Linked DNA regions of Homo sapiens: region 2 is linked to region 1. The links come from fine-mapping of genetic effects on gene expression. Tissue or cell type: whole blood. Region 1 holds a variant in brackets; the other region holds the start of a gene. All regions are shown on one strand. Distances are from middle to middle. Region 1 overlaps PARK7 (Parkinsonism associated deglycase). Region 2 holds the start of TNFRSF9 (TNF receptor superfamily member 9).

Region 1 (15,263 bases):
CACACATTACAGTTATAACTGACTTATTCTAAAATCGGAGGAATTAAAAGATTATGGGGACTGGAGCTGGTAGCACACACCTGTAATTCCAGCACTTTGGGAGACCAAGGTGGGAGGGTCATTTGAGCCCAGGAGTTTAAGTACTGCTTGGGCAACATAGTGAGACCCTGAATCTATCAAAAAAAAGATAAGAAAAAAAGAAAAAAGACTATGGTCTTCAGATGGGATTGCTTATCTGAGAAGAAACTGTCACACTGATCTTTCAAGTTCACAGTGAGGACAAGGGCCTCACCCAGAGCAGACCCCCAGGTGATGACTGCAGCCCTACCTCTCGAAGTGTCCTGAAGGAGTAGACATTTCAAGTATCCATTTCTTATAATAGAGGTTACTGACTAAATCCAACACCTGGTAACTTAAATGTGTGGGAGCCTTTTGCTACCACAGAGCAGGGGAGGGGCAGGAAGCCAAAACTGGATGCAAGGCAGAGGGCTGGGCTTGAGCTCTGGCCTCAGTCTCTCCTTGTTTGTGAAGCCAGGATGATGCCACCTGCCTTGCTGGGCACTGGGGACCAGGAAGCTCCACCAAGATAACGTACGGGAACGTGCTTTGTAAACTCCAAGTGTGAGCATCAACAATCTGATCTTTTTCTATGCCTGACCAACCTCAATGTTTTTGAGGCACTAAAGGAAAACAGATGCAACAGGCACACCTTCAGGTAGTGCAGGAGCGCGCTCCGCTTGTCTTCCCTCTGAAGACATCACAAAGGGAGCCCAGTTCTGTTCTTTCCATTTCTTTCAACGCTCTAAAATCCCTCCATGAGCTTAAAGTAAATTAAATTCCTACATTTAAAATGCCCAGAAACCAGAGACTTTTATTAAAAAGTACCAATTTTTTTTTTTTTTTTTGAGATGGAGTCTCACTCTGTTGCCCAGGCTGGAGTGCAGTGGCACGATCTCAGCTCACTGCAAGCTCCACCTCTTGGGTTCACGCCACTCTCCTGCCTCAGCCTCCTGAGTAGCTGGGACTACAGGTGCCCGCCACCACGCCCAGCTAATTTTTTTAGTACATTTAGTAGAGACGGGGTTTCACCGTGTTAGCCAGGATGGTCTCGATCTCCTGACCTCGTGATCTACCTCCCCCACCGGCCTCCCCAAGTGCTGGGATTACAGGCGTGAGTCACTGCATCCAGCAAAAAGTACCAATTTTCAAACAGATCGTTTTAATGATAACATAGTATCTTTCTAGCAACTAAAATAAAACCATGAGCGGGGCACAGTGGCTCACATCTGTAATCCTAGTACTTTGGGAGGCCAAGCCAGAAGGATCGCTTGAGGCCAGGAGTTCAAGACCAGACTGTGCAATATGGTTAGACCCTGTCTCTACAAAAAAATTTAAAAATTAGCCAAGTGTGGTGGCTCATACCCATAGTTCCAGCTACTCGGGAGGCTGAGGTGAGAGGATTGCCTGATCCCAAGAGGTGGAGGTTACAATGAACTGAGATCACACCACTGCACTCCTGCCTGGGTGACAGAGCAAGCCTCTGTCTCAAATACATTAAATAAATAAACAAACCATGGATTTTCAGGAAAACACTGCTCTGGATCAAATGTAACTGTATGTAGAATGTACAACAGCAAGAGAGAACCCTCATGTAAACTGTGGACTCTGGATGATGATGTGTCAATGTGGGTACAGATTCTGGTGCAGGATGTTGATAGTAGGGGAGGCTATGCATGGCCAGGGGCGGGGGCCTGGGGAGTGGCGAGTGGGTCAAGGTAGACGGGAATTTGGCTGTGAACCTAAAACTGCTCTAAAAAACTAAAGTTTAGTAATTAAAAAACATGCAGTATAATGAAAAGTGCATCACTTTTAAAGTGGAGCTCAGATATGCTCACAGCGGCATTCAAGGATGATCATTATGGCATGGTTTACAAGGGCAAAAGCAGAAAACCACCTTCATGCCCACCCCCAGGAGAAGGTTACATACAGCATGGCACATTCCAACACTGGACTAGCAGCTGTACTTAACAAGGATGAAGCAAATCTAAATCTACATGTGCTGTTAAAAGATAACATAAGATATTAACATTAAGTTAAAAAAAGCAAGCTGCAGAACAATACATTTAGTAGATCTCATTTTAGTTAAAATAAAAAGGATAATGAGTATGTGATAGATAAAATTCTACAGGTACACAAGAAACTTTTTTTTTTTTTTTTTTTTGATAGGGTCTTGCTTTGTCCTCCAGGCTGGAGTTCAGTGGCGAGATCACAGCTCACCATAGCTTTGACCTCCCAGGCTTAAAGCGATCATCCCACCTCAGCCTCCTGAGCAGCTGCAACTACCAGTGTGCATCACCATGCCTGGCTAATGTTTTTTGTATTTTTAGTAGAGATGGAGTTTAACCATGTTGCCCAGGCTGGTCTCGAACTCGGGGCTCAAGCGATCCACCCGCCTCAGCCTCCCAAAGTACTGGGATTACAGGCGGAAGCCACTGTGCCCAGTCTACAAGAAACTTGTGGTGGCACATGCCTGTAATCCCAGCTACTCGGGAGGCTGAGACAGGAGAGTCCCTTGAACCCGGGAGGCGGAGGTTGCAGTGAGCTGAGATCACACCACTGCATTCCAGCCTGGGCAACAGAGCGAGAGACTCCATCTCAAAAAAAAAAAAAAAACCACACACAGGCATATGGGCCAGGCGCGGTGGCTAACACCTGTAATCCCAGCACTCTGGGAGGCTGAGGCAGGCAGATCACAAGGTCAAGAGTTCGAGACTGGGCGCGGTGGCTCATGCCTGTAATCCCAGCACTTTCAGAGGCTGAGGCGGGTGGATCACAAGGTCAGAAGTTCAAGACCAGCATGACCAACATGGAGAAACCCCATCTCTACTAAAAAATACAAAAATTAGCCAGGCGTGGTGGAGCACACCTGTGATCCCAGCTACTCAGGAGGCTGAGGCAGAAGAATCACTTGAACCCGGGAGGCGGAAGTTGCAGTGAGCAGAGAACGCACCATGGCACTCCAGCCTGGGCAACAGAGCGAGACTCTGTCTCAAAAAAAAAAAAAAAAAAAAAAAAAAAAAGAGTTTGAGACCAGCCTGACCAACATGGTGAAACTCCATCTCTACTAAAAATACAAAAATTAGCTGGGTGTGATGGCATGCGCCTGTAATCCCAGCTACTCAGGAGGCTGAGAGAGAAGAATCGCTTGAACCCGGGAGGCAGGGATTGCAGTAAGCCAAGATCACGCCACTGCACTCCAGCCTGGGCGATGGAGCGAGACTCCATCTCAAAAAACAAACAAACAAACAAAAACAAGCATATACTTACCTCCATTCATCATTTTGTCTTTAGCAAGAGGGTGTGTTGTAACTTTACTTCCAAAACCTATTTCATGAGCCAACAGAGCAGTAGGACCTAAGAATAAAAATAAAAAGATCTAAGTGCAGATATAGAAAAGCCCATGTTTAAAAAATCGCAATAGTGCCTGGCACAGTGGCTCATGCCTGTAATCCCAGCAATTGGGGAGGCCTAGGTAGAAAAATTGCTTGAGCCCAGGAATTCAACATCAGCCTGGGCAACACAGACCCCTTCTCTAACAACAACAAAAACTGCAACAGCAAAGTATTCTTCAAAATCAAGAGGCTCTTACCAAACATACAGCTACGATTCTGAAATGAAACACTTCCTAGTATGAGAGATAAAGTATGTTTATAACAAACGATTTGCTGAGCACATCTGGCAAAAGCACAGAAACTCAAAATACTTCAATAACCATTTACTCAAGAAGATTTACCTTGATACCAGCAGAGCATACACAGATAAACAAAATGTGCTCACCTCTCTCACCTTCCCCATCCCCAGAACAGGGACCACATATACCAGGAGTCCAAAGGAGGGGGAGGATCACTGGGGCGGGCTCAACTTCTTACCTCACTCTTAGTAAAAGGAAAGATTTAGTTACATGCTAAAGGCAACTGGTACTCTCTGAACTTCTGGATTTTATTGCTCTTTTGTAATCTTATTTTCTACTTGAAAATGGGAAATTAGGCCGGGCACGGTGGCTCATGCCTGTATTCCCAGCACTTTGGGAGGCCAAGGCGGCTGGATCATGAGGTCAGGAGATCAAGACCATCCTGGCTAACACGCTGGAACCCTGTCTCTACTAAAAATACAAAAAATTAGCTGTGCGTGGTGGCGGGCGCCTGTAGTCCCAGCTACTCGGGAGGCTGAGGCAGGAGAATGGGGTGAACCCGGGAGGCAGAGCTTTCAGTGAGCCAAGATCGTGCCACTGCACTCCAGCCTGGGCGACAGAGCGAGACTCTGTCTCAAAATAAATAAAAAATAAATAAATAAAATGGGAAATTAACACTCGTTCATCCACCTATCCACCCAAGTATGCCAGGTGGTAGGATTAAAATGGACAGCACACTGTCCTTGAAGGAGATAGCCTGTGAAGTGCCTGGAAGTGTGAGATATAAAGGCACTAGCATCACGTGATGAAAGCTACTTAAGCAAAGAACCACATGGAAGTGTCAGTTGATGAAGTCTTTCCAAATTGGCAGGTCCTAACTTGAGATTTTTATTTAAATGTATTCACTGAAAACGGCCAACTTCAGGGAGGGTCACAAGCATATTGCGTATGTAATGGTCCTAAATAAGGATTAAAAACAAAGATTTTATATACCTTTCATTGTTATTTCATCTTAAAGCTTTTTACAAAGTATTCATTCTACCTTTTTCCTCTAAGCCACACATATAAACATTCTTTCTAAGGCCTCACATGACACTTAGAAGGATACGTTTCAGAACAGCACCTTGATCTTGGAAACACTTAAGGTGCCCTGGATGGCTAAGATCCTGTGGCACAGTTTGTACACTTTTAGTGTCAGCAAACCTGAGAGGTCTTGGTCTTACTGTCCTTTCATTTTTCAACAAGACTCCAAGGAAGGAATTATATAATATACCCACAAGCTACTCAGACCGTAGCTGTTACAAACAGGAAGATCACACAAATACTACCTAATTACATAAGCTTTCTGCCTAATATCAGCTGTCAGTTTCAGACCAAGTCCTGATTTATAGCTCTTAAATCAAAAGCCTCAAATGTCTCTTCTCCACGTTATTTTTACACACAAGACAGCTATGTATGGTAGCAAATTTTAGAAGTCCGTAAGAATTGAATAATTATCAATTTTTATTTGAATGGATTTATAAATTGTTTTTAATTTTTATTTGGTAAGAATTTAAGAAGAAATTCCTACATCATCTTGCATTTTAAAGTAAACTTTAATAGATGATAGCACAGTGAGGAAAGTGATCGGTGAACGAGAATTTTTAGGCTGCTCCCTTCAAGGTGGTAATAAAATCACTGCTACGATGTGAATAAATTTATGTTACAGTTGGATTCAGGAATTTACTGATGTCTTTCATACTTATCAGGTAAGCTCATAATCACTGCTTTCTGGGGCGTCAGAACCCTATTTGGAATACTGGAGAAGAGACGTTTCACTCTCCCAGGACCTGGGATTCTGATGGATGAAAACGCTCTGTACTCTGCACTACAGTGCAGAGGGCGCAGCTGACCATGTCCCCTTCTGCAGCCAACAGCACCACCCTGTGGTAACATGCAAAATGACCACCTCTGCCAACTCCCCAGCTCCTCCAGGTGGCCAAGACCTTGCTTCCAGAGGCCTCATTCCTAGACCTGGGCATCTCAGCTGACAACTGTCCACTCCTCCAACTCCACACTTCCTCCCCCTCCCCTACTCAAAGTAAATATCATTTAATTTTCTTCTCAACATAGACTCCCTTCCAATTTGCGTTCCTCATTCACTCAATATTAAGGACTAGGCTAATATTCTTTGTGTTCAAAATGTTTCCAATCCCTAACTGCAACACTTCAGAATAATCTTGGCTGGGTGCGGTGGCTCACGCCTGTAATCCTAGCACTTTGGGAGGCCAAGGTGGGCGGATCACGAGATCAGGAGTTCGAGACCAGCCTGGCTAACATGGTGAAACCCCGTCTCTACCAAAAATACAAAAATTAGCTGGGCATGGTGGCAGGTGCCTGTAATTCTAGCTACTCGGGAGCCTGAGGCAGGAGAATCGCTTGAACCTGGGAGGTGGAGGTTGCAGTGAGCCGAAATTGCACCACTGCACTCCAGCTTGGGCAACAAGAGCAAAGCTCCCATTTCAACAAAAAAAAAAAAAAAAAAGAATCTTATTTTTCTGTTTGCCAATTTAAAAGATCCAAATCTCTTCCATCACTCCTCTGTTCCATTCCCATAACCCTCATCTCAATTAGCTCAGCTCATCATCACATTTTTTCCTATTTCTGGTGTAGTGCCCACAACAGTGGTGCAGGATATTCAATGGTATAAACACACTGCTAGTGTGTTTTCTATTTTTACTGTTTTTTATATAATTTTTTTTTTTTTGAGATGGAGTCTCACTCTGTCGCCCAGGCTGGAGAGCAGTGGCGCAATCTCGGCTCACTGCAAGCTCTGCCCCCCAGGTTCACACCATTCTCCTGCCTCAGCCTCCCGAGTAGCTGGGACTACAGGCACCCGCCACCACGCCTGGCTAATTTTTTGTATTTTTAGGAGAGACAGGGTTTCACCGTGTTAGCCAGGATGGTCTCGATCTCCTGACCTTGTGATCCGCACGCCTCGGCCTCCCAAAGTGCTGGGATTACAGGTGTGAGCCACCGCCCTTGGCCTATTTTTACTTTTTTTTTTTAAGAGACCAAGTCTTGCTCTGTCCTTTAGGCTCAAGTGCAGTGGTGTGATCACCACATCTCAATGTAACCTCAAATTCCTGGGCTCAAAGTGATCCTCCCACCTCAGCCTCCTGAGTAGCTGGGACTACAAGTGTGCACCACCACACCAGGCTGATTTTTTAAAATATTTTTTTGTAGAGGTCGGTGGGGGGGTCTCACTATGTTGCCCAGGCTGGTCTTGAACTCCTGGGTTCAAGTGATCCTCCCACCTCAGTCTCCCAAAGTGCTAGGATTACAGCTATGAGCCACCACAGCCAGCCTGTTTATTTTTTAATGTTGATTTAAAGTACTATAAGGCCCATGCTTCTTAGCATGGCATTCCATCTAGCCTCAGCACAAAACAGTAAGCCAAATGTGGTTGATTTTTTTTTTTTTTTTTTGAAACGAAGTCTTGCTCTGTCGCTCAGGCTGGAGTGCAGTGGCACGATCTCGGCTCACTGCAATCTCCGCCTCCCGGGTTCAAGCGATTCTCCTGCCTCAGCCTCCCAAGTAGCTAGGACGACAGGCATGCGCCACCATGCCCTGCTAATTTTTGTTATTTTTATTTTTATTATTTTATTTTATTTATTTTTTGAGACGGAGTTTCACTCTTGTTGCCCAGGCTGGAGTGCAATGGCGCAATCTTGGCTCACTGCAACCTCCACTTCCCAGGTTCAAGCGATTCTCCTGCCTCAGCCTCCCAAGCAGCTGGGATTACAGGCACGCGCCACCACGCCTGGCTAATTTCTGTATTTTTAGTAGAGATGGGGTTTCACCATGGTGGCCAGGCTGGTTTCGAACTCCTGACCTTAAGTGATTTTGCTACTTTTGTGGCACAGGACAAACTGACATGTGGTTTTTACTTTCAGCAGAATCATAAGGAAACAAACTCAGCCCAAACTCTTTCTTCCTTTGGTCAAAGAATCTAGGACTGAGGCTTGCTTCACAGCAGCAGAGCCAAAGAAAACCAAACTCAAGGATCTGTGACTTTCTCTCCAAAGAGGGGAGCAGCTGCTTGGGCTGCAGTGACTGCAGTGCCCTTTGGCAGAGATAATTACCTGAGCCTCAGGGCAGGTCAAAAGGCTAGTGGTGACTCTTGTAGTAAGCCCACGTACAAGACCTGCCAGGGTGGTCAACCTCTGTGGTTCTTCCCAGCCCCTAATGCCACGGTTCTCAAACATTTAGGTCTTAGAATCCCTTTAGCTTTTATGTGGGTTATATCTATGAACATCTGCCATATTAAAAATTATTACTTTTTTTTGAGACAGTCTTGCTGTGTCACCCAGGCTGGAGTGCAGTGGCGTAATCGCGGCTCACTGCAACCTCCGCCGCCCGGGTTCAATAGATTCTCCTGCCTCAGCCTCCTGATAGCTGGGATTACAGGAATGCATCACCATACCCAGCTAACTGCCCAGCTAACTTTTGTATTTTTAGTAGAGACGGGGTTTCACCATGTTAGCCAGGCTGGTTTCGAACTCCTGACCTCAAGTGATCCTCCCACCTCAGCCTCCCGAGTAGCTGGGATTACAGGCGTGCACCACCATGCCCAGCTAACTTTTGTATTTTTAGTAGAAACGGGATTTCACCACGTTTGCCAGGCTGGTTTTGAACTCCTGACCTCAAACGATCTGCCCACCTCAGCTTCCCAAAGTGCTGAGATTACAGGCATGCGCCACTGTGCCACGCCAATTACTTTTAATGGCAAAAACCACAATTACTTTTACATCAACCTAATAAAACTGGGAAATTTTTAAAACACAATAATAAATTCTCAGATGATGGTATCATCCTACTCTGATGTCACTCCTGAAAGACTGAGAAGAAAAAAGGCGAATAACATTTTGTTTGAAAGACATGGTGTCACTCTGCTGCCCAGGCTGGAGTGCAATCATAGCTCACTGCAGCCTCTAACTCTTGCCTTCAAGCGATCCTCCCATCTCAGCCTCCTGAGTAGCTGGGACTACATGCATGCAGTACTGTGCTTGGCTAATTTTTTGTTTGTTTGTTTGTTGAGATGGGGGTCTGGCTATGTTGCCAAGGTTAGTCTCAAACTCCTGGCTTTCAAGAGATCCTTCTGCCTTGGCCTCCCAAAATGCTGAGATTACAGGCATGAGCCACCACACCTGGCCCCTCAGTAGCATCTGCTTTGACCTTGCAAGTGCACCAAAAGAACATTGAGAACCACTGATACTCGAATGTATCAAGTCCCCAGGACCTCTGGCCCATAACTTCTTTTGAAAAGCCTACTGTATTGAACAAAATAGCAACAGCAACATGTTTTGATGTTGATGTTTACCAAACCATCCACTCATTCATTCGTTTATTCATTCACTCTTCTGACAAATATTTATTTTATTTTATTTTATTTTTTTTTTGAGACGAAGTCTCGCTCGTGTCCCCCAGGCTGGAGTGCAACGGCACAATCTCGGCTCACTGCAACCTCCGCCTCCCGGGTTCAAGCGATTCTCCTGCCTCAGCCTCCCGAGTAGCTGGGATTACAGGCGCCCGCCACCACGCCTGGCTAATTTCTGTATTTTTAGTAGAGATGGGGTTTCACCATGGTGGCCAGGCTGGTCTTGAACTCCTGACCTCAGGTGATCTGCCCGCCTCAGCCTCCCAAAGTGCTGGGATTACAGGCGTGAGCCACTGCGCCCGGCCCTGACAAATATTTAATGAAGACCTATACAACAAGGAAGGTGCTGGCAAAAATTACAGCATGGGAAAAAACCAAAATGGCAGAACATCATCTGATAGGAAAGCAACAAGAATGGATCTTAAAATGGTTATGAGAAAATAAAATATTACTAAGGTACAAAGAGAAGAGGACATCTGCGAAGCACCAAATGTCCTTGTTCTAAATTATGTGGCAGATAATGCGGTGCCCAAGATCACTCGGTACTGAGACAATCAGAAACGCCCGAGAAGCCAGCGGAAAGCACCATGGGGGCTTCTGAATTTGCAGGGCAAGCACAGGACAGAGCTGCTGTGTTGATGTTTGATGGATTTTGCTGATTGTGTGCTGGCACAAAGACTTTCTGGCACAGAGACTTGCTGTAACAAGCTGTTTACTGAATTCCAGAGGGCCTTATTTTCCTCCGAGGTCAACCAAACACGGAAAACACTAAGTTTCACAGCATGTAGACCAAAGGCATGGAGAGGCAGAAAACAGAACAATTGTCCTCATCTCTGAAATGACACCAACTTCATGCCACCCAAACTAAATACACCAACACAGATGCCCTGCATGCTTTATGAAGGGGAAGAGCTATTTGGAATCAAACCATCGAATGAAAGGCTACCCCACCCACCAATGACGCTGCAACACAGGCTGCCCCTGCACGTCACCTGCACAGATGGCGGCTATCAGGCCCTTCCGGTTTTCCTGCTCCTTCAGTATCTCCTTCACAGCAGCAGACTAGTGAAAAGAAAACCAAAAATACATAAAGTTATCATTAAGCCACTAACCAATCACTCACTAGGAAACTTTGGAAGAATTTAATTTTAGTTTAAAC[C/T]ACAAGCTCTCTGACCTATTTTCCAACAATATTTCTAAATCATTGGTATAAAAATGATCAAAATGTGTCTATATTATATTCTTAAACCCAAGCAAGGCATTTCTCATAAGAGAAACGCACTCTTCCACATTTAAAGATCAGAAGAAGCAATTTGACCCTTGCCATTTTGTACTCCAGGGAGAAAGAAATGGGAGGGAATGTGGTGTTTTGGGTGTTTTCAGATGGCAGAGAGAGGAACAGAATCTAGCAGGAAAAGATCCCTTGTGTCTGACACAACCCACTTCTTACTTCTGGCAGCCCCAACTCTGCCTGCAGGTGTGCCCCTCACCCTGGCCTCTGACTCCTCACATACGACTTAAAATGAGGAACAATGGTCTCTGCTGATGGCATTTGCCATTCCTGCTGGCAGCCCTAGCCCCACAGCTTCCCCCAGTTAAGACTTTGAGTAGACAATTTGCCCTTCTCAAAACACAAAATCTGATCATTCTTCTGCTGGTGGAAAAAAACCAAATCATCTTACTTTGGACTGTATTCATCGACATCTGTTCATAACGGTCCCACCAATTCAGCTTACTTCCATGGCAACATTTTTTTTTTCTGATAAGACAGGTTCTTGCTTTGTTGCCCAGGCTAGAATGCAGTGGTGCATTCACAGCTCACTGCAGCCTCAAATCCCTGGCCTCAAGTCATCCTCCCACCATAGCCTCCCGAGTAGCTGGGACTACAAGTGTGCACCACCGTGCCCAGCTAATTAAAAGAAAATTTTTTGTAGAGATGGCGTCTCGATGTGTTACTTAGGCTGGTCTCAAACTCCTGGCCTCAAGCAATCCTCCTGTCTCAGCCTCCCAAACCACTGGGATTATAGACGTTGAGCCACTGCACCTGACCTCCATAGAAAATATTAAAAATGTTTTCTTGAGGTCGGGAGTGGTGGCTCACGCCTATAATTCCAGCACTTTGGGAGGCCGAGGTGGGCGGATCACGAGGTCAGGAGTTTGAGACCAGACTGGCCAACATGGTGAAACCCCGTCTCTAATAAAAATATAAAAATTAGCAGGGCATGGGGGTGCATGCCTGCAATCCCAGCTACTCAGAGGCTGAGGCAGGAGAACTGCTTGAACCCAGGAGGCGGAGATTGCAGTGAGCCGAGATTGTGCCACTGCACTCCAGCCTGGGCCACAGAGCAAGACTCTGTCTCAAAAAAAAAAAAAAGTTTGAGTTAATGCTATAACACCATTTTGTTAATTTTAGTTGTTTCTATTTTTTTTTCACAGCCTCCTCCCGAAATATTTGAATAATAACAAAATTAACAGAACATAAGCAGATGCTGAAATTCTTTAGTTTTTCCCCCCCCCCAGCTTTATTGAGGTATAATTGAGTAGAATTTTTTACCTCAGATAAATTCTGTGCGCCCAGATTACCTCCTGGTAGAACCACCACATCATATGGTCCCTGTAACAGTTTAAAACATAAAGAAAACAAAAACATTTCATTTCAACTGTGCATTAAATTGACAGTCCAATAATACTTTCCTATTTTAAATGTGGGAAGTACAGGAGATAGCCTATCTGCCAATAGAACAGTTAAATAAATTAAGGTGTATCCACATGACGGAATGGTGTTTTAACTAGCAAAAAATGCAGAAAACCTGTATGTAGTGACATGCAAGGATGTCCACGCTGCAGAGTAGCAGGGGTAGTATAATCTCCTTCCTGTAAAAGACAAGGATATATGTATTTGTGTGTAGATGTATGCGTGTATGTGTACAATCACCACAAGCACCCCACCCCACATATTCTGTATACAGGTAGTCACAGACAAAGGAAGACACTCTAGTTGCTAATGGGAGTAGTGTGGGATGGGGCAGAGGGAGAATGAGAACAGGACATTTAACATTTTGACTTTATATGTGTCTATATTGTTTGAATTATTGTTCAACAAGAATGTACATGAACAACTTAAAAAATTAATAGAAAAACAGGCTGGGCACACTGGCTCATGTCTGTAATCCCAGCACTTTGGGAGGCCAAGGCAGGAAGATTACCTGAGCTCAGGAGTTCGAGACCAGCCTGGCCAACATGGCAAAACCCCCATTTCTACTAAAAATATGAAAATTAGCTGGGTGTGGTGGTGCACACCTGTGGTCCCATCTACTTGGGGGGTTGAGGCAGGAGAATCGCTTGAACCTAGGAGGCAGAGGCTGCAGTGAGCTGAGGCTGCACCACCGCACTCTAGCCTGGGCAACAGAGCAAGACTCTGTCTAAAAAAACAAATAAAATTAATAGAGAAACAAATTTTAAGTAAAAGGCACAAAAAATTTTTCTTAACTTTATGAAAAATGTAACGGGGGGAGAATTTTAGTATCCCCCCCAAAAAATCCTAGAAATCAAATTAATTTCAAACTTCCTGAAATTACAAAACGGAAATTGTTTTAACAATACTTTAGGACTTTTTATTTATTTATTTATTTTTCTTTTCTTTTTTTTTTTTTTTTGAGACAGAGTCTTGCTCTGTCACCCAGGTTAGAGTGCAGTGATCTCAGCTCACTGCAACTTCCGTCTCCCGGATTCAAGCGATTCTCCTGCCTCAGCCTCCCAAGCAACTGGGATTACAGGTACCCACCACTGTGCCCGGCTAATCTGTGTATTTTTAGTAAAGATGGGGTTTCACCCTCTTGACCAGGCTGGTCTCAAACTCCTGACCTCGTGATACACCCATCTCGGCCTCCCAAAGTGCTGGGATTACAGGCGTGAACCACTGTGGCCGGCCAACAATACTTTAGTACTTTAAAAAGTGGTTAAAAAAAATCTAGTCATTAAACAAATTACAAAATAAAAATGTATTATGTATTTAGTGCAACCTATAAAATTTTTTTAGAGAGAAGCCCTCACCTCTGTCACCCAGGCTAGAGTGCAGTGATGCAATCGTGGCTCACTACAGCCTTGAACTCCTGGGCTCAAGCAACTCTCCCACTTCAGCCTCTGCAGGAGCTAGGACTACAGGCATGCACCACCACAGCCAGCTAATTTTTTTTATTTTTGTAGAGACAGGGTCTCGCTTCATTGCCCAGGCTAGTCTCAAAACTCCTGGGCTCAGGTAATCCTCCTGCCTCAGCCTCACAAAGTGCTAGGATTTCAGGTGTGAACCACTATGGCTGGCTTAGAATCACTTTTAAGACCATAAACATCCTACCGTTGATTCAAAACCAAGCAAAGCTCAAAACTCAAAAGAAAATGTGTAAAGTATAGAATTTATTTTACTCCTTTTAGAATCTGCACTGAAAAATAAAAACACACAAAAGGTAACCACTTCCTTAAAAAACTACAGTAAATGGAACTACCATATGGTCCAGCAATCCCACTACTTGGCATGTATCCAATGGAAAGGAAATCAGTATACTGAAGAGACACCTGCACTCCCTTGTTTACTACACCAACAGTCACACTAGCCAACATACGAAATCAACCTAGGTCCAACAACAGATGAATGCATAAAGAAAATGTGGCATTTATACACAATGGGATACTATCCAGCCATAAAAAAGAATGAAATCTTGTCATTTGTGGCTACAAGAATGGAACTAGAGAACATTATATTAAGTGAAAGAAGCCAGGAATAGCAAATTAAACACTCCATGTTCTCACTCATATGTGAAAGCTAAAAAAAAATTGATCACATAGAAGCATAATGTAGGACAGAGGATACTAGAGGCTGGGGAGGATAGGAGAAAGTGGGGATAGGGAGAGATTTGTTAAAAGATACAAAATTATAGCTAGATAGGAGGAATAGGTTCTGGTGTTCTATACCCCCGTAGAATGACTATAGTTAACAATCATATATAGTTTCAAATAGCAAGGAGGATATTGAACGTTCCCAACACAAAGAAATGTTTGAGATGATGGATATGCTAATTACTCTGATCCGATCACTATATATTATGCATGGAAACATCACAAATCCCATGAATATGTACACTTATTATCTGTCGATTGAAAATAAAGGTAACCACTGTTTTAAAATGCCCAGACATCATATGACAAAAACACAAACAGAGATGAAAAAAAGTATTATTATTATTTTTGAGACAGGGTCTCGCTCTGTCACCCAGGCTGAAGGGCAATGGCACAATCACAGTTCACTGCTGTCTCAAATTCCTGGGCTCAAGCAACCGTCTAGGCTCAAGTGATCCTCTTGCCTCAGCCTCTTAAGTAGCTAGAACTACAGGCATGCACCACCACACCTGGCTTTTACAAATTTTTAATTTAAAGAGAAACGGTCTCGCTATGTTGCCCAGGCTGGTCTCAAACTCCTGGTCCCAAGTGATCCTCCCACTTTGGCCTCCAAAAGTGCTGGGATTACAGGTGAGCCACTGCACTTGGCCTGGAATACTTACTTCTGCTTGTCATTTTTAATTTGTTTCAACAAATCACATGTAAATACCAACAGTCTAATTTTCTACAATCCAGTAATGAAAAATCTAAACTTATTAGAAAGGATTAAACTTTTTCCTATGTATCTGAGGACAGCTCGGCCCAGGGAACCGCACTCCAGGTTCCTCAGCAGTGTGCAACCAGCCATCTGTGAGCCGACTCTGCCTCCTTTCCTGCCATGACCCTGCTGTCAGAGGGTACAGTCCACACTCCTGTCACGCTGACCGCACGACGGAGTGTGCAAAAGCGCCTGTGGGGGAGCATGTTTCTGAGGAAAGGGATGCTAGCTTCCAAAAGTGTCCATCGTCCTTAAAGGTAAGAGCCATAATTCCAACGATACTGAAAAAACAACACAACTACAGTGGAACTCTGAAAGTATCTTTAGAAAAAATAATGGCCGGGCATGGCACATGCCTGTAGTCCGAGCTACGTGGGGGGTTGAGGTGGGAGGATTGCTTGAACCTGGGAGGTTGAGGCTGCAGTGAGCTGTGACTGCACCACTGGACTCCAGCCTAGGGGAGAGAGTGGGACCATTCCTCTAAACAAAAATAATAATAATAAAAA
Region 2 (14,707 bases), 28 kb after region 1:
ACTCCGTCTGCAATCCCGGCACCTCGGGAGGCCGAGGCTGGCGGATCACTCGTGGTTAGGAGCTGGAGACCAGCCCGGCCAACACAGCAAAACCCCGTCTCCACAAAAAAAAAAAACGAAAACCAGTCAGGCGTGGCGGCGTGCGCAGGCACTCGGCAGGCTGAGGCAGGAGAATCAGGCAGGGAGGTTGCAGTGAGCCGAGATGGCAGCAGTACCGTCCAGCTTTGGCTCGGCATCAGAGGGAGACCGTGGAAGGAGACCGTGGAGAGAGAGGGAGAGGGAGAGGGAGAGGGAGAGGGAGAGGATCTTATTTCTTGAAGTGAGAGTAAGATCCCATTACTTAGGGTTTCAGTCAGGGGTTATCAAAAAGCCTTTACGATAACTTACTTGCAAATGTGAATAGCAATGCCTGCCCAGAGGTTGGTGAGGACCTAGTGAGATCTTACATAAAACAAGCTCAAAGGAGTTGAAATGTTGAGTCCCTTACTATTTCCTGTTATAATTCTCTAATTCTGTTTCCATAATGCTTTCAAATTCCAATGCTTTGGAGACATACAGTGATCAAGGAGTTACACCAGTATTTCTGTCAATGGGCAAGGCAAAATCCATATTCCACCCAGCGGTAGACACTTGAATCTAGCAAAACTTTCCTGGCTGACTCCCTGCCCCCTATCCTTTACTGTATCCGGGAGATCCCTTCCTTATCTTGAGGCCCACCTACTCTGGAGGTTGGTAAGCAGTGGCTACATTCAGGATGAGAACTATATTCTGGTGACCTTTCGTATGTCTGTAGTTCTGTGAATCTGCTGAATTTGGCAGTGACTGCTATGTAGGGGATTAAAAGTTTGAATCCTGCCACAATGTGCTTCAAAAATCCCTTCTTTCTTATCTTCCACATTCGTACCTCTTAACACTCCCTCACTCAGTTTATCTGTTCTGGGAACTTCCTGGAACTTCACTTCCTTCGTGCTTTGGCAAAAGCATTTCCTTCTGCCGGGAATACCTCTGCTTCCATGTCAGCCTTTTTTTCCTTTTTTTTTTTTTTTTTTTTCTTGAGACGAAGTCTTGCTTTGTCGCCCATGCTGGAATGCAGTGGCTCGATCTCGGCTCACTGCAACCACTGCCTCCCGGGTTCAAGCAATTCTTTGCCCCAGCCTCCTGAGTAGCTGGGATTACAGGCGCCCACCACCATGCCCGGCTAATTTTTGTATTTTTGGTAGAGACAAGGTTTCACCATGTTGGCCAGGCTGGTCTTGAACTCCTGACCTCATGATCCACCTGCCTCAGCCTCCCAAAGTGCTGGGATTACAGGCGTGAGCCACCGAACCCGGCCTTTATCAGCCTTTCAATGTATTACCCATCCTGGAAAACCCAGTTACACTGCCAATCCCTCCAGGAAACTTTCTCTATTCCCGTAGCACTTTGCCCTCCTATTATAGAATCTGTACGGCTGTGTGGCCTTAGTTATTTGTGTAACCTCTTCCTTCCACTCAAGGCTGGGAAAACTGTTGGGATGGCACTTTATCTATATATGCCATACAAGACAATAAAACTCACTCCACAATTATTTATGGAGGGCTTGTTGTGTGTTCTCAGGAGTGCTCTGGGGTGCCAGGGATGCAGCAGTGAACAGTGTCCCCTCTCATGGAGCTTATGTTCCATGGGGAAACGACAGACAGTAAACAAAAGCACAAATAAATAGCATGCCAGGTGGTGGTATGTACTATGAAGGAAAACAAAGGAGGGAGAGAAGATGGAGAATAATGGTGGGGGGAGGGTGCTCGTTTAGACACTGGTCAAAGAATGCTGTTTTCTGAGGAGAAAACCCAAATAAGATGAGGGAGTGGCCGGGTGCAGTGGCTCCCACCTGTAATCCCAGCACTTTGAGAGGCCGAGGTGTGCGGATCACCTGAGGTCAGGAGTTCCAGACCAGCCTGGCCAACAAGGTGAAACCCCATCTCTACTAAAAATACAAAAATTAGCCGGGCATGATGGCAGGTGCCTGTAATCCCAGCTACTCGGGAGGCTGAGGTGGGAGAATCGCTTGAACCCAGGAGGCGGAGGTTGCAATGAGCCGAGATGGTGCCACTGCACTCCAGCCTGGGCGACAGAGCAAGACTCCATCTCAAAAATAAATAAAAATTTAAAAATTGAAAACAAGTCAGGCTAGAGGGGAGTGGTAGGATGCAAAACAGGAGAAGTAAATGGGTTAGAAAATGTGCAGATTTGCATTAGACATTCGATAAATGCTTGTTGAGTTAAATTTACTGAATTGATAAGGGACAGAGAGTAATCTAATGATAATAATAATGAAACTTGGAAATTGCTTGAGGTTGAGTGCAACAGACCCTATAGGCATATATATGGAGTAGTTATAACTTACACACAGGGACAGTTGGAACTCTTATTTTGTGTGGTGATACTTATTTAGTATGGTGATACTTAACTGAAGAAAAAAAATCTTATGAAAACTAATGGTTTATCCAACAATCTTCCATTATAATGGAAACACAGAAGAACAGGAGACGGATTTTGTGGAGAACGACTTGTGAGTGGAATTATTTGGTAGAAAATGCTGATCACCATTAAAAAGCTCAGAAGGAAACAAAATCCATCTCCTGGTGTTGCCTTGCTTTTGATTTGTTGAATAAGGACACTAGAATGTTAATTGACAGTAGTTGAGATGAATTTGTATATTACTTAATTTTAATAGTACTTTCCTTCCCAAGGGTTAAGGTGAACGCTAGGGACGGGGAGCTAGTACCCCACAGCCAGAAGCTGGCCTTCGGTACAAAGTTATGTTACTTCAGGATAATGTTGCCTCTTGGGGTGATACTGCTTTGATCACAGTTGTCACCTGCACCCCAAAGACTAGTTTTCCCTTTAACGGCATGTAGCAACTATCTCTCGCCATCCGAATTTAAAAATAAAGAGCCCGTGTTTACTTAATGGTTTTTGATTACGTGCTCTTATTTTAAGCTAGTCTAACTTCCTCCAAAAATTGACTACTATGAGGCTGTCAATTCTGCTCTTCATCACATTTCTCAAAGTTTAAATTGATCGTCAGTTTCTTGGTAGTCATTCATGTAGACGAGCTCTGATGTGGTTTCCAACTCAGCTCTTAAACCACGGAATTGACAGTCTTACCCTTGGTTGCTGAGTCAACACATCTTTTTACTAATTCACAGGAATGTGCCATTACAGCTAGCTCCTATGTTAGTCATACCTCTTGGCCAGATGTTAAGGTAGCTTTGGAATGAGACAGCGTCCAATTCCATCCCTGGTGTCTCCATTCCTTAAATGTGGCAGTATGGTGTGGTGGGAGAGCCTGTTCTCGCTCTCTGAGTCCAGCCTGTCTGGATTTAAGCCCAGCTCTGTCCCATGCTAGCTAAGTGATCTTGAACAAATGAGTTACCCCTCATGCCTCATGTTCCCCATCTATAAAACAGGGATCACAGAACCTGTGTACTTCACAGGGTCACTATGAGAATTAAATGAATGAATATAGGTAAAGCTAGAACACTGGCCTGGAGTAAACCCTCAAATGCTGCCCTTAATCCTTGTCTCAGGAATTGAACTCCCTTGGCTTCTGTTTCTTCACATTAGAATAGTAACAATAATTCTTACCTCATGGAGTTCCTGCATTGCAGATGTTATGCTCAACACTTTTTTTGTGTGCATCTGTGAGACAGAGTCTCACTCTGTTGCCCAGGCTAAGGGGCAGTGGTGTGATCTCGGCTCACTGTAACCTCCACTTCCCAGGTTCAAGTGATTCTCCCACCTCAGCCTCCCAAGCAGCTGGGACTACAGGCACACGCCACCATGCCCAGCTAATTTTGGTATTTTTAGTAGAGACGGGATTTCACCATGTTGGCCAGGCTGGTCTCAAATGCCTGACCTCAGGTGATCCGCCCACCTCGGCCTCCTAAAGTGCTGGGATTACAGGGATGAGCCACCGCACCCGGCCTATGCTCAACACTTTAAATATTTTATTTAGCCTCTTCAGAAGGAACAAAATCTGTCTTCTGAGACTAAATAAAACATTTAAAGTGTTTAGCATAACATCTGCAATGCAGGAAGCCACCCATAAGTATTAGCTCTTGTTATTAGAAAACATTTATTTAGTGGTAGTCGCAATCTGTTTAAATTCAGCGTTGAAGGGACCAGAGGAATGGACCACAGAATGTGATACACCATAAACATGTGCCATCTTGGTGAGGATGGTGAGGGACAGAAATGACATAGAGTTTTTGCCTTAAGATACAATGACAGCATCTGGAGAAATAATCAAAGTGAAGCTTGCTCTTGGAGTAAGAGCAAGTTCCCAGAGCTCAAACTGTTTAAGCGCATGAGCGACAGCAAGGAGACTTCATACAGGGGTTGTGACCCTGAGGTCCACAGATGCTCAAAGGTGCACAGATAAAAATCAGGGAGTCTGTGAACTTAGATTTAAATTACATCTTTAGTTTCACTAACCTCTAATGGAAATCTAAACCTAACATTTCTTCCCATTTGGAATATAGTAATTCACAAAGCATAGCTGAAGGAACAGTACTCATGGCTTGGGACCAATAGTACTGAAAGTCATCTTCATATCACATTACAGTTCTTGCAGATATCCCAGAATACCATTTTGATTCATGATTAATTTGAAATTATGCCAGATACATGTTAAGTCCATATATTAGTGCATCACAAATTGGCTTTTAAAATATTTGGCAGGGACATTTCAATTCAGTTGGTTTCCTTTGTAATCCTTTGTAATATATTTTATGAATTACGAATCCTATTCTGAGGGCTCCACAAGCATAGGACCCACAAGCGAATGGGGCCTTGGGCACAGGCAGGTTAAGAGTCTGGTTAAGAGCATGGGCTCTGCAGCCAGACAGCCGAGTTTCTAATCCTTTCTCGGCTCCTTACTAGCCAGGTGACACCAGGCAGGCTACCTGGCTTCTCTGTGCCCTTGTTTCCTCACCTGTGAAACAGGGACAAAGGCTGTCCTAAGGTATAATTGTGGGAACTTCTGTAAATACATAGAACAGTGCCTTGCGCATAGTAAGCCCTCGGCCAGTGTCAGCCGTGATCAGAAAAGCATTTTACATGAGACCTGAGAAAGGACAATGACAGCTCAGGTTGGGGTCTGCATGCCAGAATGATTTCCCCAGGAAGAGAGTGAAATTAAAACATTAGGTCATGAAGAGACAGGCAGACCGCAGGACTGGAGTGAACAAATCCATGTATTTATTTGTTCATTTGATAAAGGTTTATTGACTACCAACTGTGTGTCTCTCAGCGCTGTCTCTAACACTTTTGGGGCCTGGAGCAAGTATAGAAATGGGGCCCACACACCATGTCTGAATATTTAAAAGTGGCAAATCAAGCGCAAGGAGAATATTCTACTTCACAGAGAAGTCTTCAAAGTAACTAAATAACAAATTATTTTTATGTAACAAAGTTGGCAAAGATGACTGAGTTTAACTAACATTACAAATGTGTAGATGTTTTCTGATGACCTGAAAATGTTTAAATTAGTGGTAAATAAAGGCATACAGGGCCGGGCATGGTGACTCACGCCTGTAAGCCCAGCACTTTGGGAGGCCGAGGCAGGCAGATCACCTGAGTTCAGGAGTTTGAGACCATCCTGGCCAATGCGGTGAAACCCCGTCTCTACTAAAAATACAAAAATTAGCCGGGTGTGGTGGCACACACCTGCAGTCCCAGCTACTTGGGAGGCTGAGTGGGGAGAATCGCTTGAACCCAGGAGGCAGAGGTTGCAGTGAGCCGAGATCACACCACTGCACTCCAGCCTGGGTGACACAGCGAGACTTCGTCTCAAAAAAAAAAAAAGACACACATAGTTCATAAATAATTGTATTTTTATCTAGAAAATTTATTTTTTTGCTTTCATTTCATTTGTTACAATAGATAATTTCGCATAATTTGTGTTTGGACAGTAATGACTTAAAGGATTAAGAAATAAAATATAATTGTACTTAACATATACAGCATTTGTATGTATTTAATATAATGTGTGAATTTGAGTATGTAAAATTTTAAATTTGTTTTTACATTCGTTTTTTCATTTTTCTAAAAGTTCCAAAAGTATTAGAATTAAAAACAAATTATAGTGGATAAATATCAAATATTTAAAACTTATTTTTATTAAAGAACTGAGATTTTTAATCTTTTGAAATTTAAATTGTTTTAAATATTTTTATAAAAATTGAAATTGTCATTCTGGGTCTCAGTCCTAGGTGATTCTAGTAAAGAATTAATGCTGCAGTTCTTATTCTACATATTACATATGTGCATATTCAAGAATAATATGAATTGTTTAATATTACAAAGTCTTCCTCAGACTTTGTGCATAACTGCTGTGAATTCCATGGCAATATACAAGAACTTCCAAAACCACCAAGTGGGCCATAAATTGGATCAAGCAAGTGGATAACCAGCCTGAGCAACATGGCAAAACCCCTTTCTACAAAAAAATATAAAACTTAGCTGGGCAAGGTGGTGCGCACCTGTAGTCCCAGTTACTCGGGAGGCTGAGGCAGAAGAATCCCTTGAACCCTGGAGGCAGAAGCTGCAGTGAGCCAAGATTGCACCACTGCACTACAGCCTGGGTGACAGAGTGAGACCCTGTCTCAAAAAAAAAAAAAAAAAGGATACTTGGGACTGTAGGGAAATACCACTGTCTGTGATATTCTTGCATAATAATAGATTATACAAGAATCTGTTACACCCTTGGTATCTGAGATGGATTTGACAAATCTACTTGCCTTTTGTCTGCCTGGTACTTCTATGGCTCACACCCTCCCTGCCGTTCTTGGAGGCAACAGCACAGCTCACAACTCTCACAGCACGGTGTCACCCTCAAATGGAGTTTCAAGGACATGGATCCAGGGATGTGGGGGAGTCTTCACCCAGGCCTGGCAGTGTGGGTCCAGAGAGCAGATGGAGCCGAGTTAATGCATCCCTATGCCAGCACCGTGCGCCAGACACCCAGTCACAGACGCAGCTCTGTGTTCATTGTGTTTGTGTGTTTGTGTCTCTGCTCTGGACAGAACATACTTAACAGCGTATTTGGATTGATGAACAATTTCTAAATATTTGGACACATGGTAAGCAGGCCTCTGTTTGTACTCTTGTCCTGGGGACTGCACAGTGTTGGGGGTGGTCTGAAGTTGGAGACAACTATTGATAAGCCTTAGCATATGAGTGGATGCCACCTGGAGAAAGGGCAGAACAAGGAGGAAAGGTGAGCAAAGTCGATGGCTGCTGACACCCGCCTCTCCTTATGATTCGTACTTCCTTCTCCTTACTCTGCCTCCTTCCTCTTTGATTTCCTGCTCATTTTCTTTGTTCCAAGTTTAAAAACAATTTACTCCTTCCCAGGCCTCAGAACACCTACTGACATCACAAGCACCAGGTATGTCTAATAGTGACTACTAGTTTGGGTGTTTGGAGTAGGGGTGGCGACACTGAATCTTGAAAGAATAGATCTTTCAGGCAGAAAACAAGTGTAAACAGTGAATATCCCACGGAAGAGATTCCCTCTAAGATGCGCCCTGGAAGGGCGGAAGAATATTTTATAGGAAGCTTATTTTGAGGGCTTTCTCTTTCTAAATGTCTCCTTTATCCTGTTTAGAATTGTTGGGCCTTCATGCTATTTAGCCTCAAAGTATTTAGCTGCTTGAGATATTCAAGATTAGACCTATAGTCAATCAAAATGAAATAAAATCTATTTCTTGGTTTATTTATTTATTTATTTTTTTTTTATTTTATTTATTTATTTATTTTTTTGAGATGGAGTCTCGCCCTGTCGCCCAGGCTGGAGTGCAGTGGCACGATCTGGGCTCACTGCAAGCTCCGTGTCCCGGGTTCACGCCATTCTCCTGCCTCAGCCTCCAGAGTAGCTGGGACTACAGGCACCTGCCACAACGCCTTGCTAATTTTTTTTTGTATTTTTAGTAGAGATGGGGTTTCACCATGTTAGCCAGGATGGTCTCGATCTCCTGACCTTGTGATCCTCCCACCTCAGCCTCCCAAAGTGCTGGGATTATAGGCATGAGCCACTGCACCCGGCCTATTTCTTGGTTTAGAATGAGATGCTTAGGATGTGATGAAACAGATTATTAATACTGCTTAGGATGGATGAAACATATTATTAATATTATTAATACTGCTAAAGTGTTGCTGTCTTGTCGGGGTCATCTCTGATTTAGTTTGAGATGGTTTTATGGAATAGAAAAAGCTTTTGTTGCATTTGAAAGATTACAGGGCTACAATGGATAAAGCAATATGATACATGTTATAAAGCAAATGAAAATTATACCAAAAGAGTATTACACCTTTGGCTAGCTTAGATAGTATGTATATCTGGTTAACTATATAATTTGACTTAGCTTACTACGATGATTTTATACCACACAAAAATGCATGCAGTAACATGAATTCTTTTTTTTTTTTTTTTTGAGACAGTCTAGTTTTGTTGCTCAGGCTGGAGTGCACAGGTGCAAACATGGCTGACTGCAACCTCGACCTCCCAGGCTCAAGCAATCCTCCCATCCCAGCCTCCCAAGTAGTTAGAACCACAGGCACATGCCACCACACCCAGCTAATTTTTGTATTTTTTGTAGAGACAGGGTCTGGGCATCTTGTCCAGGTCATCTTGAACTCTTGGGCTCAAGCGATCCTCCTGCCTCAGCCTCCCTAAGTGCTGAGATTACAGGTGTGAGCCACTGTTCCCAGCCATGAATTTTTTAAACGCCTGAGTAAAGTTGAGCATAGCCTTCAGTAGCAGAATTCTGAAGTGGTTGACTTTGTTTAACTGTGGGCTGGCAAAACTAATGTTGAGACTCTTTTAGCTCAGTAAAGACTCTTATGTTACTGGCATAAAAGCCTGAAATAGTGAGCTAATTACTGTGCTGGGAAACTAAATATGTCACTTTCAGAGGAAGTAATGTCTCTGCCTACAGAATGTCCAAAACGTAGACTAGTGAGTAGCATTTAGTTAAATGAAATATGGCCCAGTTAAATGTCACACTGCAATGTTAAACAGAGTACCACATGTAAACAAGGAGATTACTTGGTTAGATGGTGACTTTCAAAGTGTTAGGAGGGGATCAGCAGTCCGATTTTTATGGTGTGACACTCTCACATTCAGCCAATTTCTGCCAAAGTGGGGCAAGGAGGGATCCCACAGATGTCACAGGTAAGATAACTCTCAGATGACCGTCAGTATTTGGGAACACATTTTGCAGGCAGCTCATGCGTTTTTCTCCTTTTCTGTCATGACTTGCCCTGTGGTGGCTCTACTGATGGTCAGTGTGGGAGGCAGGGAAGGAACATTTCAAACCAGTAAGTCTGATCATAGCAATTCCTACTTTCTTGAGAACTATGTGCCAAGCATTGAGCTAAGTATTTCATGCTCATCGTCTCATTTAATCCTCACTCACGAGGAAGATGTATGGTGTCACTGCACCTGTAAGATGTGCTTGCAAAAACAGAGTTAGGGAGGTTGAGAAATTTGCTCAAGATTACACAACTGAGGCAGGAGAATGGGGAACATGAGGCGTGAGAGAGCAAAGGGAATAAAAATCACTGGGAACCGGTAACCCCCCTCACCCCCGAGAGTGGCCAGGGAGAGAGAGGCTGCCTGAGGGAAGGAAGCTCGGCAGGACCCGCTGCAGACCCAGGGCCAAGGGAAGTCCCGCGGGAGGAAACGCGGGCGCGGTGGGGCTGGCTCCAGGCACGCGGGCCAAGGGCGGGAGGGTCGGACACGAAGCCACAAGGCTCCTTTCCTTCCTCCTCCTTCCCGTCTGCCTTCTTCTGCTTCTGCGGCCTGATCTCCGAGTCCCTCTGCCTGCAGGCGGCGGCAGAACGTCCGCATCTGTCCGCATCTCAGCGCTGTCCCCCAACCGAGTCGCGCCGCGTTTTCCTCTTCTGTCGGGAGAGCTCGTGCTGGGAACCGCGGGGCAGGAGGACGGCCCAAGCTACTCTCGATGTCCTTCCCCAGCCCACGCCTGCCCCAGCCACAGTTCCCCTGGTTTTCCTGAGGTTCTCCAGCTGCTCAATGATGGGCAGGTTCATCTACAGCCTGGAGCAGCCGCCTCCTCCTCCTCCTCCTCCTCCTCCTCCTCCTCCAGAAACACCCCTTTTTCCTTCTCCTCATTCTTCCTTCTCATTCTTTCTCCTCCTCACTCTTCCTTCTCCTCATTCTTCCGTCTCATTCTTTCTCCTCCTCATTCTTCCTTCTCCTCTTCCTCTTCCCCTTCTCTTTCTGTTCTTTTCTTCTTCCTCCTCCTCCTCCTTTTCTCTTTATTTTTCTCCTCCTCCTCCTCTTCTCCCTCTTCTTTCTCCTTATACTCCTCCTCTCCTCTTACTGTACTTTTTTTTCCTTCTGCTTTCTCTGCCCTCCTCTTCCTCTTCTTCTTCTTCTTCTTCTTTTTTTTTTTTTTTTTGTGGCTGGAGTGCAGTGGCGCAATCTCGGCTCACTGCAACCTCTACTTCCCAGGTTCAAGCGATTCTCCTGCCTCAGCCTCAGTAGCTGGGATTAAAGGGGTCCACCGCCACCATTCCCTGCTAATTTTTGTAATTTTAGTAGAGACAGGTTTTTGCCATGTTGGACAGTCTAGTGTCAAACTCCTGACCTCAGATGATCCATCCACCTCGGCCTCCCAAGTGTTGGGATTACAGGCATGAGTCACCGCGCCTGGTCTCTTTCTCCTTTTTTTTTTTTTAAAGAAAAATTGAAATCATGGTTTTCTAAAAATCCCTCCTAGCTCTCAGCTTCACCGAACCACGTCCTGGTCATTGACTTGCCGTGTGACTGCTGTGCTTCCCCTGTTTCCATTTCCCTCCATTTCTCCCTCCTTCCTCCCTCTGTCACCCATGCCCGGAGGAGCACGATAAGGGACCAGGCCGACCTGGGTTCCAACCCTGCCTGCTCCCTGTCCTGTTGACGCTCTAATTCCACTTGCAGCCCCACTTTCCTCATTTGCATAGTGTTCTCCCAGTAACAACAGCAGTCATACCAAGTTCTAGGGTTCTTTCGAGGATAGTGTGTATTCACCGCAGTGCATCTCTGATGCCTGGCACATCGGCTGTGCTCAAGTAATGGCAGCTATTGCATTACAGTGACTATGGAGTTAGGGGACCGCATATGGCAAAATGCTGATCACTGTTTTGAATTTGGTTTCATTCCTCTAATCTCAAATCCAGTGTTTTAAGGACATGCTAAATGCTTTGTCCTGGAGAGCTATCTTAAGGGACAAAATCGTTTTCCCAGCGTCATCTGTGACACATCCTGACAGTAGAGAGCTGCTTCCAAGAAGCAATTTGAAGTGCCATTATCAGGCAGGGACGGGGGCTCTAGGGGATTTCGGGGTCAGCAGATATGAAATGAATGATTTCATAGGGCTGTCACAGAGCTGTGGTGGGAATTTCCCATGAGACCCCGCCCCTGGCTGAGTCACCGCACTCCTGTGTTTGACCTGAAGTCCTCTCGAGCTGCAGAAGCCTGAAGACCAAGGAGTGGAAAGTTCTCCGGCAGCCCTGAGATCTCAAGGTCTGTCCATCTGGGGGAGTGGGTGGGGGCACTGAGAAGGGGTGAGATTGGAACTTTTGCTCCCTTTGCCCATTTCTAGACTTTTTCTCCTAATATGTAATAACTTCTCTTCAATAGCCCTTTAAATAAACATCAATAACTTAGCCTGAAGAGTTTTTCACTCCTTAGTTTTGTTACCATACAAACTTCACATCTCAAAACATGTCTCTGTTTAAGAAAATGTGTTAGTGAGTTGAACAGGGAGGTCTTTCCACATGTTAGTAGTTAGGTGTTCAGCTAAAGGGGGAAGAGTGATTATGTGATAGCTTCTTCTTGAACTGAATTGTCTGATGCCCCTGACAGATTCTCTTTGTAAGGAGTTTATTTCAGGGGCAATAAGTAATTGGCATTATTGCTGGTTGGTACTGCAAAGTACCTATGAAAGTCCCCAAAAGTTCTTGCTATTGTTATTTCTGCATTTTGGCAGAACATGATGGAAAATGCACCCTCAAACTTTGGCAAACCGGCACAAAGCTGTGTGTTTAATCACGCCTGCCTTGTCCTAGTGGTTTCTATGAATCTGCTACTTTTCCGTAATATTGCATCATTAATTGTTCCTGAAAAACCCTGAGTTATCCTCTTATAGAATTGTATAAGTAATGATTGCAATATAGATAATTTTGAAAGGAGAAACCACCTTTCCTTGGAAATGTTTATCTTTTGCAGAGTGACATTTGTGAGACCAGCTAATTTGATTAAAATTCTCTTGGAATCAGCTTTGCTAGTATCATACCTGTGCCAGATTTCATCATGGGAAACAGCTGTTACAACATAGTAGCCACTCTGTTGCTGGTCCTCAACTTTGAGAGGACAAGATCATTGCAGGATCCTTGTAGTAACTGCCCAGCTGGTGAGTACCCAGTTATCATGTGCATTTGATCTGCTCTGTTGGAAGTATGGTTCAGTTAGTCTAGTAGTCAGGGCTAACGAGCTCCCTTTTAAGGAAAGGAAAATGAAAATTCATTCATTTACAAATGTTTATTGGATGCTACAACCTAGCTGTGTGAACACAGCAAAGTCATTCAACCTCTTGTGCCTTGACTTTCTCATCTGGGGATAATAAGAGAACCTGTTTTATAGGATGGCTGGGAGGATCAAATGAAGGGCTTAGAACAGTGCATGGCACAAGGCAAGACTTCAATAAATGTTAGTTTTGTGTGTAGGGCTTTGTGCTCCGACTGGGGGCATAGCAGCGAGTAAGCGCGTAGTAAAGGGCTTAACAGAGTGGGGACGGTCAGTCGCATTTAAATTTTAGTGTAGGACATTGATGTCCTCCTGGATCCAGTCATATTCATCTCCTACATCAATCAAGATAATCATTTTGTTTTATTCAATAGATAAAGTATTTTCTTTCTGTTGATTTATTTGTTACAATATCTGGTTTTTTTGTTTTTTTTGTGTGTGTATGTTTTTTTTTTTTTTTTTGAGACACAGTCTCACTCTGTCGCCCAGGCTGGAGTGCAGTGGCACGATCTCAGCTCACTGCAACCTTGGCCTCCCAGGTTCAAGCAATTCTCCTGCCTCAGCCTCCCGAGTAGCTGGGATTACAGGTGTGCACCACTGCGCCTGGCTAATTTTTGTATTTTTAGTAGAGACAGGATTTCACCATGTTGGCCAAGCTGGTCTTGAACTGCTGACCTCAGGTGATCTGCCCGCTTCGGCCTCCCAAAGTGCTGTGATTACAGGCGTGAGCCACTGCACCTGGCCTGTATTTTGTTATTTCTAATTCTGTGATTACACAAAGAATAATCTTGCAAATGTATTGTTTTAGGAAGTCAATCAAACTAATGTCCACCACTGTGGCATCTAGAAAACTCATCATTCTTTTATAATCTTATTTTATTGTAAACTTCGGAATGCCTTGGGTGACGATTGCCCATTGTCAAACGTGTACCACTATTGTCTGCCTTTCTTAGGTACATTCTGTGATAATAACAGGAATCAGATTTGCAGTCCCTGTCCTCCAAATAGTTTCTCCAGCGCAGGTGGACAAAGGACCTGTGACATATGCAGGCAGTGTAAAGGTATGAGTTCAAAGATATTTTCTTCTTCTAGAAGATAGTTGGGAAGATAAGCTTTTCTTTCCCATTTACTAACTGCTCTCTTTTGAAAATCTCAAGTGTCAAAGACTGATTCTTCTGCCAACCAGCAGGTCTAGGACAATAATATCCAGTGACAGCAATTATTTGTGGACTGAGCTTTCTAAATATTAGAGGAAACATTCATTTGACAAGAGAGAAGTTTTTACTTACCTAAATGTAAAAATGTCTTTATGGAGATTTAAAAGTAAACTTTAAAATTACTGGGAACACTATAAGTAGAGTGAGCATGATTTTTACTGCAGAGCATAAATTCGCTTCCTGGATTTGGAGGTCAAGTGTAATAAAATGTTGGGGGCTGGGGGGACTTTGTAGGTGTTTTCAGGACCAGGAAGGAGTGTTCCTCCACCAGCAATGCAGAGTGTGACTGCACTCCAGGGTTTCACTGCCTGGGGGCAGGATGCAGCATGTGTGAACAGGATTGTAAACAAGGTCAAGAACTGACAAAAAAAGGTACGTTTGCGTTTCTTTGATCTAGTGTAGTTTTGTGACATAGACAAACTTAGCTTTGATCTTGATCCTTTGAAAATAAACAAACAGATTTGTAGAACCTTAAAGTAACAAGGGAGTATATGATATATCATATTTTAATTAATAAAATATTTCAATTAATAAAATATTTCCGTTATTTCTTCATAAATGGAAATAATTTGAAATCAGAACATTTGTTAATTGCCAGAACCATTAATCTTCACATGTTCCAGACATATACAATACTTTATGTACAATTAAAATAAAAACTAGCCATCTTAGGGTGTTGTTTCAAGAATTATTGAACAATTTGTGCAGATTGCATTATGGTAATGACTTATATTAAGTTCATCACAGGAAAAGTTACAAAATGATGAAAATGCTTCCCTTTTATTATTGCTTTCATTTTTAATACAAGGTTGTAAAGACTGTTGCTTTGGGACATTTAACGATCAGAAACGTGGCATCTGTCGACCCTGGACAAAGTACGTATAATTTCCTTTAGTTTATGGAATAAAGAATCTGG

Evidence for each region. PIP is the estimated chance that this variant, and not a neighbour inherited with it, causes the effect.
Region 2: it holds the start of TNFRSF9, and the variant in region 1 is fine-mapped to the expression of TNFRSF9 in whole blood (INTERVAL, PIP above 0.99).

What each region holds. Positions count from the first base shown.
Region 1 is chr1:7,965,803-7,981,065 of GRCh38, reverse strand. It overlaps PARK7 (Parkinsonism associated deglycase), which reads right to left. Exons shown (of 7, transcript NM_007262.5): 4 at 11,662-11,721; 5 at 10,103-10,172; 6 at 3,328-3,414. Among named protein-coding and RNA genes, the nearest start is that of PARK7, 12 kb to the right of the region's middle. The variant C/T (reference allele first, on the strand shown) is at 10,270.
Region 2 is chr1:7,937,649-7,952,355 of GRCh38, reverse strand. TNFRSF9 (TNF receptor superfamily member 9) reads left to right here and starts at 11,517. Exons shown (of 8, transcript NM_001561.6): 1 at 11,517-11,572; 2 at 12,278-12,461; 3 at 13,528-13,635; 4 at 14,026-14,163; 5 at 14,600-14,666. The coding sequence starts at 12,362. RefSeq lists a silencer at 9,674-9,813.